Linked DNA regions of Homo sapiens. The protein of the gene in region 4 interacts with the protein of the main gene of each other region in a pairwise test. Each region holds a gene or a part of one and is shown on either strand. Other genes may lie near its edges.

Region 1 (3,500 bases), on a different chromosome or scaffold from region 4:
CCAAACTAGTTTAATGCCACAAACTGAAAAAGAGTGCCTCAACCAGAGAGAGAGAACATGCAAGCAAATTGTATAATTTCTTCTTAAATTAAGATATAAGCCCAGATATTTTAGTGCAAAGTGCCATTCCAAATATTCAGCAAAGGCATATATTTGCAAGAAAAAAAATTTACTTTTGGATTAAAGTCTACCTACATTTTTACAAGACCACTTCCATCTCTTCAAATTCTATATAGTTTTTTTTTAAAACGTCTTTGAGAATCTCTAAATTTTTAGTAACATATATTACAAGTAATCTAGAAACAACTACAAATATTACTGAAAAGCTAAAAGTCTAGGATAATCATGTTACACATATTTTACATAAAACCCTTACTTTTAATCTGTAACAAATAAAAGATACTTAGTAGTAATGACAAGGTAAACTACGCACAACAAAAGATTGCAGAACTAAGAGATTCACATCATCTGTAAAAAATTCTAGTTTTTTTCTATCTCTGCCAGTCACCAAAATTCAACATTAATTATATAAAGATTAATTTAAATGGTCGTATGAATAGACACAAAACTTGAAATCAGGGATCTATAATGCTCATGGTTTCAACTAAAACTTTTTTTTTTTTTTTGAGATGGAGTTTCACTCTTGTTGCCCATGCTGGAGTGCGATGGCGCAATCTCGGCTCACCACAACCTCCACCTCCCGTGTTCAAGCAATTCTCCTGCCTCAGCCTCCCGAGTAGCTGGAATTACAGGCATGCACCACCACGCCTGGCTAATTTTGTATTTTTAGTAGAGAAGAGGTTTCTCCATGTTGGTCAGGCTGGTCTCGAACTCCCGACCTCAGGTGATCCGACCGCCTCTGCCTCCCAAAGTGCTGAGATTACAGGTGTGAGCCACTGCACCCAGCCCCTAAAATCATTTTTTTAAGATGTGAAAAAACAGCAACTCTGGCCAGGCACAGTGGCTCACACCTGTAATCCCAGCACTTTGGGAGACCGACGCAGGTGCATCATCTGAGCTCAGGAGTTCAAGACCAACCTGGCCAACATAGTGAAACCCTGTCTCTATTAAAACAAAAAAATTAGCCAGGTGTGGTGATGGGTGCCTGTAACCCCAGCTACTGGGGAGGCTAAGGCAGGAGAATCCCTTGAACTCAGGAAGCAGAGGTTGCAGTGAGCTGAGATTGCACCACTGCACTCCAGCCTGGGTGACACAGCGAGACTCCATCTCAAAAACAACAACAACAACAACAACAAAAACCCAGCAACGTTGTTCAAATGTACAGTTGTATGTTCTGGCTGTCTAACAATCTATTGGACAATCTATTGGATCTACTGTATTTCCAAAGTATACCTACTACATCTTTACTCCAGAAACCTCAGCTCTGAGAATTTTTTGTATTACCATGTAGGATGATATCCTGGGCACTATGGAAGATATAAATAATTCCCCAAAACAATACTATCTACTCTTTGTAAATCATTTAGTTCATTCTTTACTACGTATTTCCACTGAACTCTTCCACGATCCTTAGCCCACAATGACTTCCCCTTCCTCTGAACTTCTCCAACCACTTAAGTGTTGGCTTAAGTACCTAAGTCAACATTTGATACTTCTCATACACTATTTTGACTTTTTTGTGCATAATCACATCTTTTCTCAGGGTTGGGAGAAACAATGGGAGTAGGGGTGCTGAAGAAGTAACAATGGGAGTAGGGGTGCTGAAGAAGTAGTGAGAGAAGAATACCAATCAAAGAGTTGGGATTAAAACCTTCTACACACTGCTTTGAGACAATATTTGAAGTTCTTGGATGAAGTCATTTAATCCTATGTATACATGAGGGCTAGACATTCAATCTAGGATCTTTAATGATAGGTATTGTTTTTGAGAATTATTTGTGTTTTCCATAGTGCTCATATTATCACACGTGGTAATACAAAAAATTATAAATTTTTGGATGATGTAATCAAAGAAATGCAGCCAAATGACCACACTTGACCAAAGCCAAGGATCCAAATCTAGGAGATAAAACTGGTAACAAATAAATAATATAGAAAACTGTCTAGGAGGAAATCTGGGTTTGTCAAAAAAGAAAATTATTAAAATTGAAAAAATATTTGGAAAATTGCACAAGGAGATCATCAAGGTCTTTGCAAGCTTTCATTAATAATCTTTGTGGTACTAGAATGCTTTATAATTGAATTAAATACTTTAAGTCTAACTAGGTAAATAGCACTAATTTCAGGCTTTTTGTTCCAATATATTCTAATTCTACAAACCACTTACACACAAAACATCATACTTACTGAGATCTCTACATTTAATAGTGCTATATTCAAAAGAGATACAAAGATAGTCACATGCTTCTCTCAGTTCAGGAATAGATATGCCATCAGGACAACGGATTATTCCTGTTTTATAGTAATCCTGGAAAAAGAAAAGTAAAGAAAGCATAAAATATCTGGAGCATAAGGTAGCCAAAACTTATTATTAAGGAAGGGCTGGTAACATTTTCAGAAACAGTAGAGAACTCTGACATCTCTGAAATGTGGAAGTTTAAACTTAGATGAGACCTCCGTTCACCTAACTACTTTTTCATTTTACCTATAAGGAAAATTCAGGTCCAAATGAATTCACCGACTTAGCCTGTCATAAAATTATTTAAAAGCAAAGGTAAGATTTGAATATAGGGCTCCCTGTTACCTAATTCATGTCTTCTTTATGACATCACACCAATGCATATGTATTTTCCTTCTACAAGTTATATTTCTACGAAACCATCATAAAGTTTTAAACATTTTTTTAAAAAGTAAGGAAATTGAATGATATGTTATCTTAAATACTACCTAGATAATTTAACAAAATGTGAGGTTTTTAGTACAGAATTATAGTCATATTCAAGTATTAAAATATGTAAAATAAGACATACCATTAGATATTCTTCTTTTAATACTACCCTTTGGTGATTCCATATTATGACAAGCAATATTAATTATTTCCAAAATCCACTTAGTAAGTTGTTAAAGGACAACCCCAGAATCACAGATAAGTTACTTCAGAGATGAGTGATAAAAATTCTTTTCAATTCCACAAGGGGAAATATGGACAGCTAAAAAAACACTTTTTCCCCAAAATTAAGACCTGGCTCAGCCAGGTACCATGACTCACGCCTATAATCTCAGAACTTTGGGAGGCCGAGGTAGACAGATCACCTGAGGTCAGAAGTTCAAGACCAGCCTGGCTAACACGGTGAAACCTTCTCTACTAAGAATACAAAAAAATTAGCCGGGTGTGGTGGCAGGCACCTGTAGTCCCAGCTACTCGGGAGGCTGAGGCAGGAGAATGGCATGAACCTGGGAGGCGGAGCTTGCAGTGAGCCGAGATCGCGCCACTGCACTCCAGCCTGGGCGACAGAGCAAGACTCCATCTCAAAATAAAAATAATAAAAAAAAAAAAGAATACAAAAATTAGCCAGGCGTGGTGGTGCACACCTGTAATC
Region 2 (3,500 bases), on a different chromosome or scaffold from region 4:
TTTCCTTAATTTGGCTCAGGATGACCATGTGTTGCTAAGATCAGTGTAAAGCAATGTTAAGAGTCTATAAGTACAAGCTTTAAGTGTTACTACTAAATTAAATTCTGGACTTGAGGCATTTTGAAAATCACATTCAATATGATTCATTTTTCCTTGAAATGAAGTTGTTATATCATGCCAGTGACACAACCAGAGGTGAGATCCTAATAGCTCTTGAGGGAATGGGCCTTGCATGATCAAATTTAAATAAAATTTAGCACCTAAATTCAGTAATGGAGGCAAGCAATAGCATGGGAATTAACCAACTTCACTTGGGCTACTTTCGCAATAAAGAAGACAATACAAGTCAACAATATAGCACCATGCTGCCATAAAAACCCTTAAAAGTAGCAATTAGTTCAAATTTTATAAGTAATTGTGAGACAGCAGTCTGAGTTTTCTAAAATCAAACATACAAAAAACACACTTTCAATAGGCCAGTTAAATTAGTTATTGGCTGACTTTTAAGATAGTTAAGTACCTTAATAATAAAATAATTAAGGACATGGCTCTCTTGAAACTTAGTGTTTTAAAGAAGGTTCCATGTTCAAAAAATGTAAGTTGTAAAGATCTAACAGCAATTATTTACCTATATTAAGATTCATATGAGTTAAAAAATTATAGAAAACATATCCATCAACATAATGAGTTAGAAAATATACCAAAAATTAATATTGCCAGAATTCTTAATCAGAAAAACAAGCTCCAAGACCTCTGGAAGTCTTGGCAATATTTCTGTCCAATGTAGCCATTTATCTCCCCAGAAGTAAAATTTAAAGGTCTCAACTAAAATAAAACACTCTCTTCAGGAACTGGGTGACTATCATTAAGTACTCCATCGATTGGTAGTTGTATGTGTCCTATCTTATCTATTAAAAAATGGCTAAACACTATTCAGTAGGTGATATGTTTCTATGGAATCAAGACTTACATTCTTACAGGTTTGCCCATAGGTATTAGTTCTTCTTAAGATCTAGCTCCCTTATTAAAAGAAGAAATTTTAAAGAGTTCTAGAAGCTCAGATTACTTTTCCATTCAATTACATTTAAGAAGCCTGCTTGTATAGTCATTAAGGTGAATAAAACCAGATTATGGTACATACCATTATCAAACAGTTAAAGTATATATCTTCATCAAACATTATTAGTATCTCATGTCATTTGATTACACAGAGGCTTTTTTTTTCTTCCTGAGATGGAGTCTCACTCTTGTTGCCCAGGCTGGAGTGCAATGGCGTGATCTCAGTTCGCCACAACCTCCACCTCCCAGGTTCAAGCGATTCTCCTGCCTCAGCCTCCCAAGTAGCTGGAATTACAGGCATGCACCACCATGCACAGCTAATTTTTGTATTTTTAGTAGAGACGGGCTTTCTCCATGTTGGTCAGGCTGGTCTTGAACTCCCAACCTTAGACGATCTGCCCGCCTCGGCCTCCCAAAGTGCTGGGATTACAGGCGTGAGCCACGATGCCCGGCCAACACAGAGGCTTTTATTAAATGATTCTATTTCATAAAAATGCACCTGTTTCAATCTCACCTTGCTTACAGACCACATACAACAAGACACATCTGTCTAATGGCAAGTTTCACATTCCTGCACAGCAGATTTCATGAGTCCTAAACAGGCTACATCAGAGTCTACCACAGGAAAAATCAGATTTCAAAATATCTTACCCCAGATATGAGAAACACTTTACAGAAGTCCAAAACTGGCAGAATCTGTAGGAAACTGGCAGCTTCCAGCGTGTCTTGAAGGTTGTCCATATTAAGAGAAAGCTTTGCAGTATAAATGAAATCAATAATTTTCCTTAGACCGACTTTGCTCACACCATGAAGTTTAATGCACATTAAATCTTGTTCTTTCATTCCACCTTAAATAAAAAGACATTCAATTAAATGAAGGTGGATAATTATGGTCAAACTCACTTCTGCTGCTAATTAGATGCAATAAAATCAAAGGAAAGTCTTATCTTATATAAGCAGTCATATTAGAGTCAGTCTGCTGCACATTTTACTGTTAAAAGAAAGTACTTAAAAAAGATAATCTCTATACTAATGGAGGTCATATATGATGCAAGTGCTTCCAAAATGTTCTCACTTCCTATTTTTTGACATAGAGTAGAGATTGTACTAGGAGGACACAGAGTCTCTGATGGCCCACTAGATATAAGCTTGAAAAAGAAAAGCTGTGAGATAAAGATGGACAGTATGAAAAAAGTGCATCAATTTTCCATGTTAAAACAGCACCACCGAAAACCATACATACTGTTGTGTACTTCTTTTGAAGCTGTTTCCAAAAGAACCAAATTTCATGTTAGAAATAAAAAAGATTTAAACACGGATTTTTCATATTGTTTTAATGTGGTTTCAGAGTTTTAAAAGGCAAACTACCTGTGAACATAGCCTTGAAGTAATCACTAGCAGATGCCATCATGACTCTATGCACAGGGAAAGCATCATCTGTGTCACCTGGCATCAGGGTCACATCACAAAGCAATCCTTCAAGTCGAAGCTGGTCAAAGCCCTACAACAAGAACATGAGTTGAGTCACTAATCAAGGTAAAATGAGGTTACAAATCTTCGTGTGCTAAAATTGTTTGAATATTAATGTGGTGCAACATATGTGGAACATAAAGCCAACAGAATATTCGGGAGAAGAAAAAATAACTGCACAACTTTCCTGATATGTGACAATGCATGTTTTCTTTCACTGTAGGAATAACACAAAATTAAGACTAATTTAGGTTAAAAACGATTAAGGAAAAAGTATATACTTTTGCTTATTTACACAATTATCAGCTTTTACCTTATTTTGAAAAATAATTACAATGTGCACTTCTACTTTCCCATCTGCAGAATGAGAGTATTAGACTGTCTTAACATTCCTTTTCGCGATAATTTAATAGTCCTTTTATAGTGCTTGACTGAAGCATCTTGGTTTTGTTTTGTTTTGGGGGAGGTTGAGAAAGAAAAGTAGAGAGCAACTGTATTAAGTACACGATAGTTCTTTCTACTAATTGTATTACTTCATCTCTTTGAGAAGCCTATACTCAGTACATTGCTGCTGCCTGGCCAAATATCTTTCAAGTTTCAAGTTTGAGACTTAATTATCTTTGTTTGAAAAAAAACAAAAAAAAGCCCAGGAAACCCCAACATGAGACTTAATTGTCTCCAAATGCCTAAAGGTTTAGTGGAGAATTAACAGGCTAGCAGCCACAATTCAGAGGAGTGACAGAGCTCTGGTGAGAAGAATCCTTGTTGATTAGCTTTTTCACTACACCCTGATGGTCTCAACTAACGACAAATAGACAGTTGTTCTATTGATATAAGTTGGAAGAATGACAATCACTTTTAAGATTATAACAGGTTGAATCTACAACATACACATATTTCAAAACATCATGTTTTTCAATTTTTATCTTTTATTTTTAATTTTTGTGGGTACAGAGATGTATGCTTTAGGG
Region 3 (3,500 bases), on a different chromosome or scaffold from region 4:
GTGGGTGGATCACTTGAGGTCAGGAGTTCAAGACCAGCCTGGCCAACATGGCAAAACCCCATCTCAAATTACAAAAATTAGCTGGGTGTGGTGGTGTATGCCTGTAGTCCCAGCTACTCAGGAGGCTCAGGCAGGAGAATCGCTTGAACCCAGGAGGCAGAGGGTGCAGTGAGCCAGGATTGCACCACTGCACTCCAGCCTGAGAGACCAAGTGAGACTCTATGTCAATAAATAAATAAATAAATAAAAATAAATTTAAAAATTAGCTGGGTGTGATGAGGCAGGCCCATAGTCCAAGGTACTTGGGAAGCTGAGTTGGGAGGATCGCTTGAGCCCAGGAATTTGAGGCTGCAGTGAACTATGATCAGGCCATTGCACTCCAGTCTGCGTGACAGAGCAAGATCCTGTCTCTAAAAAAACATAATAACAATAGTAATTCAGTAACCTGAACATATGTTTAATATGCTTTTATGTATTTGTGTTCTACTGAGCAATAAAAGTTTTCAACTTGAATTAATGGCCTCATAGGAAGCATATGTCACAAAACTTAAACCATCGCCAATTATATAAAACTTGGCATCTTCCCCTGATCCTTAACAAGGCAGATATAAACATTTTTGTGGATGTTCCCTAGTGTGTATCGATAATTTCATGAAAAGTTACTTAACATTATTTTCAATAAGCCTTTCCATGCAGCAGTCTAGTTTAACATTTTTAATGACTACCATGTGAAAACTGCCTGTGTGTGCTTCACCAACGGTTTTTCTGTGACTTGCTTTCAATTGCCTGCCATGACGAAATGAACTTCTAGAAATACCTTTATGCATTTTTCCCCTTTGGGTCATTTCTCTGGAGATAGTCTTTTAAAAGTGGAATTATTCCATCTAGGAATTTGAAGTTTTATGTGCTCTGGGAAGATCACACCATTTTTTTATGGACAGCAAAACAAGATATACTGTTGTAGCTGGGATCTTTAGATGCCTCTCTTGCTACCTGCCCCAAAGTTCCCTTTATCCCCTTCTGGGGACCCTGGACTCCCACTGCAGCCTCCGCTCTTAATATTCTGGTTCTGATCAATGATTTCTGCCTTCTTTCTGTAACCCAGCCCCACCTTATCATTCATTTTTCCTCACGGATTGCTGTTTTCCCTCATATCTGAGCCCCGATCTTGATCATCTGCCTGGACCCCAGCAGCTCTGACACTGGGTTCTTCCCTGAATCTCAACTCAGTATGTGAGGATGTGCTCTCTGTCCCCGACCTATGCAAGAATATTAACCTCGGCATCAACACCAGCGCTGGTACCCCTGCCGCCACCACTAGCAACTCAAGTGCCAACTCCAACATGAACGAGAGCCGTCTGCCTGCCTGGGTCTCTGGCCCCAGGCTCCCTTCACCCCACGAGCACCACTTCTCTTCCCTGGCCCCTTGGACCCAGACTGCCTGCCGCTGGCTCTCCCCCATGACTCAGTTCTTGTTCCAACTCAGAGAGCCCCTGGGATTTGTCCACACTAAAAGCTGAGCTCCGGCTCGTACAATCCGTGCAGGGACTAAGGAGTGGCAGGGATGTTTGTGTGCTGTTTCTGGAAAGAGGATGAGAAGGTGATGTCAAAGGTAGGGGAAGAAGAAAAAAGGCAAAAGAAGAAAAATAAAAGGAAAGGAAGAAGGAGGAGAACCACAGGGTAGAAATGTGGGAATTGTGTTCTATTATTTTTTGACTTCTTAAGCTTGTCCAAGTGAAGCCAAGCAAAGAACATAAAGCACTGTCATGTTCCATTTTTTGTTTGTTTGTTTTTGAGACACAGTTTCACTCTGTCACCCAGGCTGGAGTGCAGTGGTGCAAACTCAGCTCACTGCAAACTCCACCTCCCGGGTTCAAGCAATTCTCTTGCCTCAGCCTCCCGAGTAGCTGGGATTACAGGCGCCTGCCACCAAACACAGCTAATTTTTATATTTTTAGTAGAGACGGGTTTCATGGCAGTTTGCCATGACGGGTAAGACCATGTTGGCTAGGCTGGTCTTAAACTCCTGGCCTCAAGTGATCCTCCCGCCTTGGCCTCCCAAAGTGCTGGGATTATAGGTGTGAGCCTCTGTGCCCAGCCTCATGTTCCATTTTGTTGGGTTTAAATCGCCTTTGGAGAGAGCCTCTCAGGTGACCCCATCAAACATGCCCCGCACCACCCTTCTTCACTCTGTGTCCTCATCCAGAACTCTGTGCCCGTCAACAGATTCCATTTCATGTACGCTTAGTCCCTTGGACATCAGCTTGTCCCCCAGGAGAGACGTGAGAGGAGAACATTGCACCTTGGGGTTTCCCTGGCCTCTGCCGCGGGGAGGTCCCCGAGTGCACTGCTTAGTTACCTGTGAGGGCAACCAGGTGTGGCAGGCAGAGGCGGTTGGCTAGAATGATGAGCTTCATGTCATCCAGGTCGGGGCTGGAGGTGAACATGCCGGTGTAGAGGTATTCCAGCACGGCCCGCATGCAGCTCTTGCTTGTGTAGGGAAACACCACCTGGGGAGGGAAGGAGTGAGCGGACAGCAATGAGATCCTGCTTAGGAGAAGATGAACTGAACCCTGAGAAATTGAAGAGCTCTGGCCCTCACACCCAGGCTCCCCCAGACGGGCAGCCTTCCCTGTGCTGCATGTGTATCTGCTGAGAAGACCCTGAGAACACCTGACCCCTAGAGCGACAACCTGTGCTGAGCCCCAGTTTGCTGACAGCACCAGAGTACAGGCCTCTACTATCATTTATGTGTTTATTTTTAGAAACAGCGTCTTGTTATGCCATCCAGGATGGTCTTGAACTCCTGGTCTTAAGCATTCCTCCTGCCTCAGCCTCCTCAGTAGCTGGGACTATAGGCACAAGCCATGGCGTCCAGCTTCTAAACTCTTCCAAAGGGACCCAGATACTACTCACTGGCACCCTTTGGAAGCCGCTCTTGCTCGCGGGATGCTTGAAGGAGGCCTTCTGGTCACCTCAATCTACACCTCAGTCCCTCCCATCCCTGCACAGAACAGAAGTGGGATACAGAATAAGTAAGGCCCACAGCAGCTGATTTCTTTCTGTCTGCTCAGAGCTGCTGCTTTGGGCCTCCAGGATCTCTTGAGAGCAGCGCTGCAACACAAACTGCCTTCTCATCAGGCTCTCCAGGCTGTGCTGGGAACTGGCTAGAAGTTTAAAGCTGGCGTCTACAGTACCGAGAAGTGCCCGGGGCTGGCAGGCCCCTGGGGCTTGTGAGAGCTCCTAGTCTCACATTTTGTATATCCAAATCCTACTCCCACTTCAGAGACCAACTCCCAACGCTTCCACTTAGCCTTCCTTAAGTACTTCCTTCCCAGAAATCTTAGAAAATGCACATTCCACATCACGGGATGCGATGCAGCCCAGCCTCGTGCTTGGTTCTGTTTTTCATTCAAGCATTTGGTGAGCATTTCCCAAGAGACTGGCGCTGAGAGGGTTTTTGGCAGAAGGAAAAAGACCCAGTCCCTGCGCTCAGAAGC
Region 4 (3,500 bases):
AGAAAAAAATTTAAAAACTTACTAGAGCAAACAAAAAAATACAAGAAAATATATCAATATATTAGATTTAACTATAAATTCCTAAACAATCTAAAAATAAAAATCCAGGATAATTACACCACTATTTCCTGTCCACCCGAAATTTCTGTCATGGACTTGCATCTTTCCTCCTCTCAGCTCTTCTCCACTGTAAACACTGATATTTATAAAGCAAATCATACAACTATTTACATTAGAGTCAGAATGTTTTCATAGAAATGAATGGTTATTCTACAGAATTACGTATTTTCACGTATCTGGTTTGCGAGACTATAAGGCCAGTAGAAGTGATGATCTCATATTTAGATACCAAAGGAAAAGACTCACAAATCTGTTAAATGGTTGTGACACATTTTAACCATAGAGTGGTACACGGTGATTTTAAAAATTTAAAAACTGTACAATTCTCTAAACTTAAGGTTAAGTTGAAAATCAGAGTAAAAAATGAAACTAAATTCTGAATTTCATTAAATGCTCATAAAACTCCCATCAGACTCCAAAGCTAAAGAAGTTCCAGCTCACCACCTTTGGGGAGTTATACCAAACACATTTATAATACATTAATTTCTGTGTTTTTATAGTCTCACTTCACCTGCTACGCACCCTTAGGATGTAAGTCCCATTTAAGCTAAACTTACAGAGGAGAATAATAGTAGTGAGGTATAGGAAGGTCAGGTGACTATCCCAAGATGACACAATCTTGGGGTAAAGTGAAAAGAAGAGTACTGAAACTCAGTAAACTTGTGTTAAGCCCAGTACTCTTTCCACAATTTATAATAGATTTGTATTATCTTTATTAACAACAGAATAATTCTCTTTATTAAATTGTCAGTGTATTCCTTCAAGTGGGAAGAAACAACTAAATTTTAAAAGAATAAAAAGTTTTAACATAAACACAGAATAAGAGGCAATGTGAAGGAAAATTAAGTACTCACAGATAAAACACATGTTGTCACTAATGACATTTAAAGAAACAACTGTCATCTGCTAAGTGGATGAAAATATACCCATTACAAAAGACTTTACATGAATATCTAAGTAGAAATTAACGCAGAATCTTACACCAGTTGCCTGTAGATGTTGCCTGAATTCATCCATCGTTGTGTTTGAGATGCTCATATCCCTAAACATTCCTTCCAGTTTTGACGTGAACTGACATCCACATTCAGTCTGTGGAGGAAAAACACAAATATACACAAATAAATGGTAGATGTTTCTATGAGAAAGTACAGAAAGAAATAAATTATTTCATGTTATTGCTATCCCTGATAATCTTCCTGTAAATTTTTCCAACAGTTGCTCTGTGCCTGTGGTTATCAAACTTTAGGATTTTAAAATGCAAATTCCCAGATTCTTTCAGAGATTCCAATATACCCCCATGAAAGGCAGGGCCCAGAACTGTTTTTAACTAGCATCTCAGGTGATTCACGTGCAAGTATTCTATGGACCACACTTTGTGAAAAAGAACTACACAGCATAGCCTCTTTATTGTTTCCCTTTTACTAATCCTCCCTTCCAGGCCTCCATGAATGTATCCTGACACACCAACAGAAATTCCAGCAAACTCTGAATGTCCCTGAACTTGAACAAATGTTAGTGTAGTCTGTGTTCTTCTCCAAAACAATCTACCTTTATTTCTAGAAATAAACACTTAATAATCTACCAAATTAATTTCCAATCACGTTGTCAGTACACAATCATAATAAACCTCAGTTAGGTGCACTCTATTTCATCTAAAACACACCTTACCTTTAACTTAGATATCATGTTTTTTTCAGAGTCATCAGAAACACTTTTATTTGTGAGAAGTCTCCTTGCCAAGTGTTGTTTATAATAACGTTCAAATACATCTTTTTCTTGCATAAACCTAAAAAGGACCATTGCTTTATCCAATATTGTTTCTACTTCTTGTTCTGTTAGCTGCAAAATTAAGATGATGTAACAATTATACAATTTTAGTTCTACAAAAGCAGTACTACGGTTCATTTACAGCTTAAAAACACTATTGTTTGAAAACATAGATATCTGGTTGACATACATCAAAAAAAGGGATACGGTTTGAGAAAGTGTCTCCTACTTCACACAGTAGCATCATTCTTACATTCTCATTTAGTGCATCATGAATGAGGGGTTGGAGTGGAATTCTATTCCGTAGAGGGCTACCACTGAATTGGAGGCATAAGGTAATATAGCGCTGGGTTAAGGGATGATTGAGAACAGATGAAATGAAATTTTAGTCACAGAGATTATTTTATGAAGCCTTTGCATATGCAGGCAAAAACTTACACAGCCAAAAGACGGAATTTTTCATTTAAGCTCACTGAAAGCCTCAACTGTGCAAACAAAAGGCAATAATTTGTTATAATCCAAACAGTAAAAAGGCCATTGCCCTTACTTTATTTTTTTATTTCTATTTTTTTTTTCTTTTGAGACGGAGTTTCACTCGTTGCCCAGGCTGGAGCGCAATGGCGCCATCTCGGCTCACCGCAACCTCTGCTTCCCGGGTTCAAGCAATTCTCCTGCCTCAGCCTCCCGAGTAGCTGGGATTAGACATGCACCACCACACCCGGCTAATTTTGTATTTTTAGTAGAGATGGGTTTCCTCCATATTGGTCAGGCTGGTCTTGAACTCCCAACCTCAGGTGATCCGCCGCCTTTGCCTCCCAAAGTGCTGGGATTACAAGCGTGAGCCACTGTGCCTGGCTGCCCTTACTTTTAAATAAGGGCAAAAGGATTCTGTGGCAGGTTGTATTAATATATTTGAAAAACGGAAGACCAAATGAATGCATAAATTAATAGACTTTTCTATTCTGTGCAACCTTAGTGATTTTGTTCCCTTATTGCAGCTACTGCCTGTAAAACCTGTGACGACATGTTGCTTTTCCCTTTGGTGTCACAAATTCCAAAATGAAGTCAAAAGAGACCAATTCAGATGTGAGCATGTTTTATGCTTCAGTTGATTTTCTATGCTGTCGTGAGCTCCTCAGGTTCCAGAGATATCATATATCACAAAGGCTTGAAATTGAGCTACACCAACCATTTTCTGAGATGAGATCTACTCTATCTATGCCTTAATATTCTTGGCATCCAATTATTGTTTGACATATAACCTTCAGAACCAGATGAGAGCAAACAACACTCTCTACTAGAAAGTTTTCTAGTTCTTTATCTTCAGCATGCCTAACTCTCAGTCATAAAAATGACTGTTTACCAACTACAGCTGTGTAGTTGTTCAGTTTTTTTTTTTTTTTTGAGACGGAGTTTCGCTATTGTTGCCCCAGCTGGAGTGCAGTGGCGTCATCTTGGCTCACTGCAACCTCCGCCTCCTGGGTTCAAGTGATTCTCCTGCCTCAGCCTCCTGAGTAGCTGGGATTACAGGCATCCACCACCATGCCCAGCTAATTTTGTATTTTTAGTAGAGATGGGGTTTCACCAAGTTGGTCAGGCTGGTCTCAAACTCC

What was found. The genes of interacting proteins can lie anywhere in the genome.
Region 1: the proteins of CUL3 (region 4) and BTBD10 interact in binary tests that used the Homo sapiens proteins (3 or more experiments, as listed by UniProt).
Region 2: the proteins of CUL3 (region 4) and KLHL13 interact in binary tests that used the Homo sapiens proteins (3 or more experiments, as listed by UniProt).
Region 3: the proteins of CUL3 (region 4) and RHOBTB2 interact in a two-hybrid assay, tested with the Homo sapiens proteins (2 studies listed by BioGRID).

The regions. Positions count from the first base shown.
Region 1 is NC_000011.10:13,411,223-13,414,722, forward strand, and holds part of BTBD10 (BTB/POZ domain-containing protein 10), read right to left. Parts: intron 2,429-3,500; coding exon 2,308-2,428; intron 1-2,307. UniProt on the Homo sapiens protein: Plays a major role as an activator of AKT family members by inhibiting PPP2CA-mediated dephosphorylation, thereby keeping AKTs activated. Plays a role in preventing motor neuronal death and accelerating the growth of pancreatic beta cells.
Region 2 is NC_000023.11:117,917,811-117,921,310, forward strand, and holds part of KLHL13 (kelch-like protein 13), read right to left. Parts: intron 2,561-3,500; coding exon 2,428-2,560; intron 1,908-2,427; coding exon 1,711-1,907; intron 1-1,710. UniProt on the Homo sapiens protein: Substrate-specific adapter of a BCR (BTB-CUL3-RBX1) E3 ubiquitin-protein ligase complex required for mitotic progression and cytokinesis.
Region 3 is NC_000008.11:23,009,548-23,013,047, reverse strand, and holds part of RHOBTB2 (rho-related BTB domain-containing protein 2), read right to left. Parts: intron 2,511-3,500; coding exon 2,360-2,510; intron 1-2,359. UniProt on the Homo sapiens protein: Regulator of cell proliferation and apoptosis. It likely functions as a substrate-adapter that recruits key substrates, e.g. MSI2, to CUL3-based ubiquitin ligase complexes for degradation. Required for MSI2 ubiquitination and degradation.
Region 4 is NC_000002.12:224,501,864-224,505,363, forward strand, and holds part of CUL3 (cullin-3), read right to left. Parts: intron 1,960-3,500; coding exon 1,789-1,959; intron 1,210-1,788; coding exon 1,102-1,209; intron 1-1,101. UniProt on the Homo sapiens protein: Core component of multiple cullin-RING-based BCR (BTB-CUL3-RBX1) E3 ubiquitin-protein ligase complexes which mediate the ubiquitination and subsequent proteasomal degradation of target proteins.